3 separate regions of the Homo sapiens genome follow, and regions 1 and 2 are each linked to region 3. Evidence: fine-mapped expression QTL. A gene starts in region 3. Each other region holds a variant in brackets. All regions are shown on one strand. Distances are between the middles of the regions.

Region 1 (2,678 bases), 54 kb after region 3:
TCTTACTTTCTCTTTTTGTCTGATAAAACAGATGAATCCAAAGAAAAGTTAAACTTTGGCCTGAAGATAGACATTTTCAATTTCAATTAGCTTTCTAAGGGAAACTGACACCCAGGGAGATAACAGCTGTAATTTGACATGATTGAGAGTCGCTGTTGCCTTGGAAACACTCCCAGTTAGGCCAAATCGATGTTTCATTGTAATACCATCAGCAGGTCTCAACAATCAAGAAATTCTTCCTAGCCATTAAAAAGAGATTAATTATTAATTGTCTCTCCCTGGTCTAGAAAAAATAGATACCATACTTATTTTCCTTTTCAAATTTCAAACTTAAAATTTTGACCTTCTTAAATATCAAGGATTTTTATTGGTACAGTGAAATGCCGCATACATCTGTCTGATTGTTAGCAACTTCTAGAATCAAACCTTTTTTTAAAGAATGACTTCATTTAGGCGCGGCGTGGTGGCTCACACCTGTAATCCCAGCACTTTGGGAGGCTGAGGCGGGCAGATCATGAGGTCAGGAGATCAAGACCATCCTGGCTAACCCCCGTCTCTACTAAAAATACAAAAAAATTAGCCGGGCATGGTAGTGGGCACCTGTAGTCCCAGCTACTTGGGAGGCTGAGGCAGGAGAATGGCATGAACCTGGGAGGTGGAGCTTGCAGTGAGCTGAGATCGCACCACTGCACTCCAGCCTGGGTGAGAGCGAGACTTTGTCTCAAAAAAAAAAAAAAGAATGACTTCATTCGTTTATTCATTCAACAAACGTGGAATCCTCTGTGCTGGGTTATTGGAATTCAAAATGAGCTAGACCTGCTTCCTCCTCTACCATTAAGGAGCTCACAGTCTAGGTCATTAAAATGTGTGTTGGAAGGATCACGGTAATATTCAAAAGAGGGACTTTGGGTGCACAGAGAAGGTACACCTAACCCAGAGTGGCAAGGCAGTCAGAGATGGCTTCCTGGATGAAGTGAACTTAAGCTGAGTTTAAAGGATAAGCAAACATCTGTTGAACTTTTTGAAAGAGAATCTCTTAATTCCACAGAAAT[A/G]CTAGTGTCTTTAGCTTCATATTCAGAGGGCCAGAAATTTCTATTTTTTAATCCCTGTAGTACATGTAGAGACTTATCAAACTAACTTGGTGCTGAGCTTGAGGTTTTTAGAGAAGTATTTTCTAATGTCCAGGGTGATGGTATGTGACTTTGAGATAGGTCACCAGTGGGGCTGCCACCCAGACACTGTTAGTGTTCTTTTCAGTGGCTTAGCTGCTGACTCGTCCCTCAGTTATACCTGAACCCTACGTCTATACCCTCCCCAGCTCACTTGCCCAGGCAGGGGCAGAGATGACTGCAAAGCTGGAGGGGATGTCAGCTGGGTGACAGGTGGCCTGGGCTAGGCCTGTGGGACAGCTTGGCCTCTCTGGTGTTCAGGGAGTGGCCTCTACTGGAATTTCAAAGCCTCAGGGGCTGGGATGGCTTCCTTAATCTTTCAGGAAATGAGCCAAGAATGACAGAGGCTGAAGAGATATGGCAGCAAAACACATGTTCTTTCTGTACCTGAGGACACATTTGCAAAAATCTTAGCGCCGTCTCAGGCTGTCTGTAGAGGGTACATTGGAGGACAGTAAAAAATGACTGATATTTCATGGTGGGGATGAGAAATACCCTCTCCAATAAGAAGAATTCTTTGACACTGAGGTTGCGGATGAGCACTCTGTTGACCTAGGAGGAGGCAGCAGACAGATTTAGTTTCTGCAGTGGCAGAAAGGGAAAGTGACTCATGTGGGTTTAGGAGCCGAGCCATCCAGCAGTGTGCTCTGAGCACTCCCGACCTTCCTGTCTCCTCGCTTTCCTTTCTCTTCTCTGCTTCACCATAATAATGCTCATCACTGCAGATATTTCCACTCTTTAAGATCTAGGTGCATCCTCGGATTTGTCTCTCTGAGTCCTGAGACAGCCTCTGGCCAAATCCAGGTTGGAAGAAAACAGACAAGCTTCTCATCAAGGGCTTTATCCTTCAAAACTTTCTAGAAAGAAGGCCGAAGGAGGGAGTTAAAGCAAAACAGTCTTGTGAGAAAGAAGACATTGCCCAGTCTAAAATACGTGCCTAGAGCCCTATAATCATATTGCCAATGGGCAAACACCTTTATTTTTGGAAATTTTACCAATATCAGAGTGCAGTCCACTTTCCTTTTCAAAAGGGCTGAATTTATTCACATTTAGATACATGTCCTATCAAAAATATTTCACAATGTGACCAACTTTTCTAGATTCACGGTATAAATCAACTTTATAGACACTCATGGTTTAACCTCAGTTGGTAATTTTCTTTCTTTTAAGCAGGCAGGCAAGAATATTCATGATTGTTACTATTTTATGACCAGTTTTATCCAGAGTTTTCACACAACAGAGGCTCCCCATTTCCTGTAAGGTATTATGACCTCTCAGAAGAGGTTTGTTTAACTTCTATAAATACAACCACTTCATGCGTTGGCATCTCCTTGAGAAAAGGCTTCTCGAGTTACTGTCATAAACAGAAGTCTGATTGCAGTTGAGGTTTCTGTCCAAAGATGGGTTCGCTACTTTGTGAATTGATTTGTAATACAGGAGGGGGCCGTGCACCCCACCCCACCTCCGCTACTCCAGGGTGTCTCTGTTCTCAGAAGTTGGCTTGAGCCA
Region 2 (2,678 bases), 35 kb after region 3:
CCCAACACTTGCTGTCTTCTTTCTTGAGGAAGTGATGAGTTCCCAGCAGAAGCAATGGTGGTAGCCATTTTCATGCTTGCAGTGATAGTCAAGCAGGTGTTTGCCTTTGAGGCCTGTCTGTATATGTCCTAGAATATTAGTAAGAATATATGATACCTGTATATAGCACTTATCAGAAAGAATAGATTTTCTTTCATTTGTTCATTGACTGGTTGACTGACTCATTCATTCAGTATTATTTACCACCACTTAGGTTTTTGTGTTCTTGTTTCAGATTTTCTACCCCACTGGAGAAAAGCATTTTTTAACATTTATTTGTAGCAGTATCAAAAGGCTGCATATGAGGGGGAAAAAAAGGGCACAATGATTAAATGAAGACCAGTAATATTTTCTTGGGGAATTAAAAGACAAAACAGAGTGTGAAAGAGAAGAATTCTAGGGTGGGATTAGCACCTTTTGAAGTAAAAGTTCCTGCTTTCTTAGAAGTTTCTTCTCATGAGGAAATAATTTGGTGAACTGCTCATATTTAAATAAAAACAACACATGTACGTGCACAAATTCATTGTTAACATTTAGGAAAAATATATGTTATTTCTGATAATTTAAAAAGAAGCATCACATTTGTTGAACATATTTAATTGTTAAGGAAAAATTTTTTAAAGCATTAATAAAGCCTTTTTTTTTCTTTTTCTTTTTCTTTCTTTTTTTTTTTTTTTTTTTGAGACGGAGTCTTACCCTGTCACCCAGGCTGGAGTGCAGCAGCACGATCTCGGCTGACTGTGTAACCTCCACCTCCTGGATTCAAGTGATTCTCCTGCCTCAGCCTCCTGAGTAGCTGGGATTATAGGCGTGTATCACCGTGCCTGGCTAATTTTTGCATTTTTAGTAGAGACGGGGTTTCACCATGTTGGCCAGGCTGGTCTCGATCTCCTGACCTCAAGTGACCCGCCCGCCTCAGCCTCCTAAAGTGCTGGGATTACAGACGTGAGCCACTGCACCCAGCCAAAGCCTTTCTTTCTTATTAGAATACTGCATGTGATGCCAGACAGATGTGACAGAGGCCAAACCCAGTTGGGAAGTTGATTTATACCCACATCCACCAATGAGCATACTAAGAACTTGAGGTGAGATGGTGATATGGTTAGGCTTTGTGTCCCCACCCAAATTTCATCTTGAATTGTAATTCCCATAATCCCCACGTGTCAAGGGAGGGACCAGGTGGAGATAATTGAATCATGGTGGCATTTTTCCTCATCCTGTTCTCATGATGGTGAGTGAGTTCTCATGAGATCTCATGGTTTTATAAGGGGCTGTTTCCCCTTC[A/G]CTTGGCACATCTCCTTCCTGCTACCTTGTGAGGAAGTTGCCTTGCTTCCCCTTCACCTTCTGCCGTGATTGTATGTCTCTCCAGCCATGCTGAACTGTGAGTCAATTAAACCTCTTTCTTTTATAAGTTACCTGGTCTTGGGCAGTTCTTGCTAGCAGCATGAAAATGGACTAACACAGATGGCAAAGGTCAGGGACAGGTGTGAGGACTGAGAGTGGGACAGTGAGGACAGTTACAGGCTAGATGGGGATGACAACTTCATGAAAGGAGAAGGAAAAAAGTACTAAGCTGGAGGATGGGCAGGAAGACAGAGAGATGGCCATAGTTCCTGATCTATTAAAAGTTTGTGAATTGACAAGTACATTTGTTGAGGAGAGATGTATTGAACGCATTCTACATGTTGGGCACTGCTGTGGGCAGCTTTATAGACATGCTCTTATTTTGCTTTTTTTTTTTTTTTGGTTGTTCCTTTCAACAGCCATTTGAGGTATCACTCATTTTTTATAAGTAAATAAGTGAGACCCAGTGAGTTTCAGTAATTTGCTCAAGATTATTCGGCTAGTAAGCCAATGGGCTGGAAATTAAACACACATTTATCTCACTCCGAGTTCATGTTTTTTATTCCATTTTATGCTTTAAATTTAGTTTTTCCATTTGTCAAGGTTATATGTGCACATGGTTTAAAGGGTCAAATAGTGCTGTAAGTCTGAAGAAGAAATTTTCAGTTCCTTGTCCCATTTTCAAAACACAATCACTTCAACCAATTTCCAAAGGCAATCAGTCACTTAGGCATTGTAGACAATTAGGAAATCTTTCTCTGTTACATTTCGCCCCTCTGCCCCAACACGTACTTTTATAGTCCCTTTCTCAATAAAGTTATATCATGATTTTGGTCAGAGCAATTTTCAGTGTTTATTTTATTTTGACTATCCTCTTTCCTCTCCAGTAAAATATTTTATTTTTCTTCAAGTTAACAAAGGTTAACTTGTTCAAAGGTCCTTCTTCATTTGCTTCATTTTTCTGTTATTATTGATACAAATGTCAACCATCCTCTTACTGTTTAAGTCCCTCTTCCATATATTCAAGTACATCTGTTGGATATTCTGTCACTTTCATCCTTCCTGGAGCCTTTTGACTTGCTCTATCTGGACTGGCTTCCCAGTAGGCTCTGCATGTTACTATCATCTTTATCATCCTTTCACCATTATCTTGGGCGTTCCCTTAACCTCTCTTGAGATGGATCCCTGTTTCCTGGATTCCATAGCTTCTTTTTTTCCCTCACTCCCCACAAATTTTGGTGGAGCATCCTGTAGTAGATTTCTGAGAAAAGGGTATATTAAAAACACATTTAAAA
Region 3 (2,678 bases):
TGAAACCCCGTCTCTATTAAAAAATATAAAAATTAGCTGGGTGTGGTGGCGGGCACCTGTAGTCCCAGCTACTCTGGAGGCTGAGGCAGGAGAATCGCTTGAACCCGGGAGGCGGAGGTTGCAGTGAGCCGAGATCACGCCATTGCACTCCAGCCTGGGCAACAGAGCGAGACACCATCTCAAACAAAACAAAACAAAACAAAAAACCCCTGCATGAATCAACAGACTTTAAACACTTATTTTGAAAGACATTTCCCTTTTCCTCCAGAATTTGAATTTATTCATGGGAGCAGTCTGTAAAGGAAGTCCTAGGCACCATTAAAGACAAGTGCTTTAATAATTTAAGAAGTGTGCATGTAAACTTGGGCACATTGACAGTATATTACATTGGGTTAAAGTGTAACGACCAATATAAATCCAGCTTCCACAAGCAGAGCATAAAAACTGACACATACTTTTCTTGGTTTATTGGGTAGGAGGATGTTAAATACCTTATGGTAAGATAAGCTTTCTAATACTGGAACTGACTAACTGCAAAGAACACTGCTCTGGTTCTTATCAGGAAAAAAAGTCCATTATAATCATTTTAGGCACGAAACTTTCTACGCATTAGAATTCTTCCGAGGTGAAAAGTATATTATTAAGGGAATTCATTTTGCAAAGAGGAATCTTTTTTTTTTTTTTTTTTTTTTTTTTGCTCTAAAGATTTTTCATAAATTACCAGAGTAGTTTAGGATTTTATTAGGATATTTCCTCGGAAGTTTGGGGGTTCCGTGTTCTATCAGGTGATGCCTAATAGATGCCTGATATAGCTCATAAGTCAATGAGAGGACAGAGCGTTACACTTGCCATGCACTCCGGGCTGCCCCGGGTACTTTCTTTACGGATGCTGGATGCTTCCAAGGTAACCCAGTCCTTTCATTCCCGCTCCTACCGAGATGCCGGGAAAGCACTCCCGCGCCGATGCGAGGTAGGCACGTCCTGCGCCCTGTGAGCGGTAACTGCGCTCGGCGTCGTCCTTCCCGAAGTCCTTGGCTTACACCTCTTCCCATCGAGTCGCCCCAAAGCCCCTCCTCCAGGCATCCCCCTCCTTGGGCAAAAGTTTAAGGGCGGGCCCCCTTCTCACTAAAGCGCGCCAGGGCCTCTCTCGTGGCTGGACAGAGAAGGCTCCTCGCTCTTCTCTAGCCCCAGCTCGGCGGGTGGGGACAGACGCTGAGACTCTCGGTGGCCGGCGCTGACGTGTCCTGGCCGTGAGGTGCCTCCCACCTCGAGGGACTTACTTAAATATTTGGGGCAGGGCACCCTCCCAGGACCCCAGGAAGCCGGCGCAGGTTCGGCGGGGACCCTGAGGCTGTGGCGCACTTGCCCCGGCACAGCGCGAGCACGGAGTGCGCGTGGGTGAGAGTGAGGGTGCGCCCAGGGCCAGCGGGAGGCGGACCCGCCAGGCGGCAGGTGGGTGCGGCCGGCTGGAGCCAGGGCAGCGGCAGCGGCGGCAGCAAGTGGTTGGGCCGTGCGCATTTCCTTCCCTCCCCCTCGGCCTCGGAGCCCGTCTGCAGTGCCCAGTGTGCTGCGCCTTCGGCTCGGCTCCGCTCCGCGTCCTCTGCCCGCCGCAGCCGGCCGCACCCGGCCGCACCCTTCCCCGTCCGTCCATGTCCCTGCCCGTGGTGCTCCCGGGCTCCTGCTGCCCCGTGGCTGGGCTTTCGGGTGGGCCGCAGGCCGGGGGCCCGGGCGCCGCTGCCGCCGCCGCTCAGGAGCCGCCGCTGCCCCCGCTGCGGCCGCGCTGGCCCCGGGGCGCGCTGCAGCCCCCGTCGCGGCCTCGCTGCGCGGCCACCGCTGCTGCCGGGGTGCTGGCCGCGCCGCCGGCGCTCTCCTCCCGCCGGGCAGTCGCCGCCGCTGCCGCCGCGGCCCCGGGCTCCGCGCTGCTGCCCGCCCGCCCGCTGCTGTCACTTGGGCTGCTTCAGCTGATCTTGGGCTGCTGCATGGTGGCGCTCAGCTTCGGGGCGCTGTCGCTGAGCAGCTCCCCGCAGGTGAAGAACTCGTGCCCGTTCTGGGCCGGCTCCTCGGTGAGTACCGCGCGCGCGCCCCGTTCGCCCGGTCATCCCGGTGATAGGGGGCTCTGGTCGTTCCTCTCCATTGCCCCTTTGTTGGCCTCCAGGGCTGCAGTTGGGGGAGCCTCACGCCACCTGAAGTTTTTGGAGGCTGGAGAAAAATGTTCCGCGACGGTCGAGTTCAGGGGTGAATTGGGTTGCACCTGGGTAGTGTCTGTTGCGCGCAGGCTGAAGAATTTTATTTTCCCTGTCAAGCTAATAGAATTAAAGACACCCAGCTCTTTGGGAGATTGGAAGGACAGGGTGTGGGTGGCAGGAAAGTGGGAGGAAAATGATTAAACTTCTTTTGGTTATTGAGTATTTGCTGCACTGACAACGTCTGTGCTGGGAGGGCAGGGATTTTGATCATTTTTGTTCACTGATGTATCAAGAATGCCTGGCACATAGTAGGTGTATTTGTGAGATGGGACAGTTTGACTGGGGCACATCGCTTGTTTTATTCTGCATTAAGACACACGTAAATGTGAAATGTGTAGGGTGGCTCGACCCCCAGACGAGTTCAGGAGGTAATGAGGGGGTGTGTGTGAACTGGCGCTTGTACCTGGTCATTAAAGGAAGGCCTTAACCCCA

The links. PIP is the estimated chance that this variant, and not a neighbour inherited with it, causes the effect.
Region 1: its variant is the best candidate, but not a certain one, in a credible set for the expression of ENTREP1 in skeletal muscle (GTEx, PIP 0.61).
Region 2: its variant is the best candidate, but not a certain one, in a credible set for the expression of ENTREP1 in stomach (GTEx, PIP 0.64).

What each region holds. Positions count from the first base shown.
Region 1 is chr9:69,378,034-69,380,711 of GRCh38, forward strand. All of the region lies in intron 6 of ENTREP1 (endosomal transmembrane epsin interactor 1), which reads left to right. Among named protein-coding and RNA genes, the nearest start is that of ENTREP1, 54 kb to the left of the region's middle. The variant A/G (reference allele first, on the strand shown) is at 1,053.
Region 2 is chr9:69,358,202-69,360,879 of GRCh38, forward strand. The region is part of intron 2 of ENTREP1 (endosomal transmembrane epsin interactor 1); the gene reads left to right. Among named protein-coding and RNA genes, the nearest start is that of ENTREP1, 34 kb to the left of the region's middle. The variant A/G (reference allele first, on the strand shown) is at 1,324.
Region 3 is chr9:69,323,661-69,326,338 of GRCh38, forward strand. It overlaps ENTREP1 (endosomal transmembrane epsin interactor 1), which reads left to right and starts at 1,555. Exons shown (of 11, transcript NM_001347995.2): 1 at 1,555-2,063. The coding sequence starts at 1,650.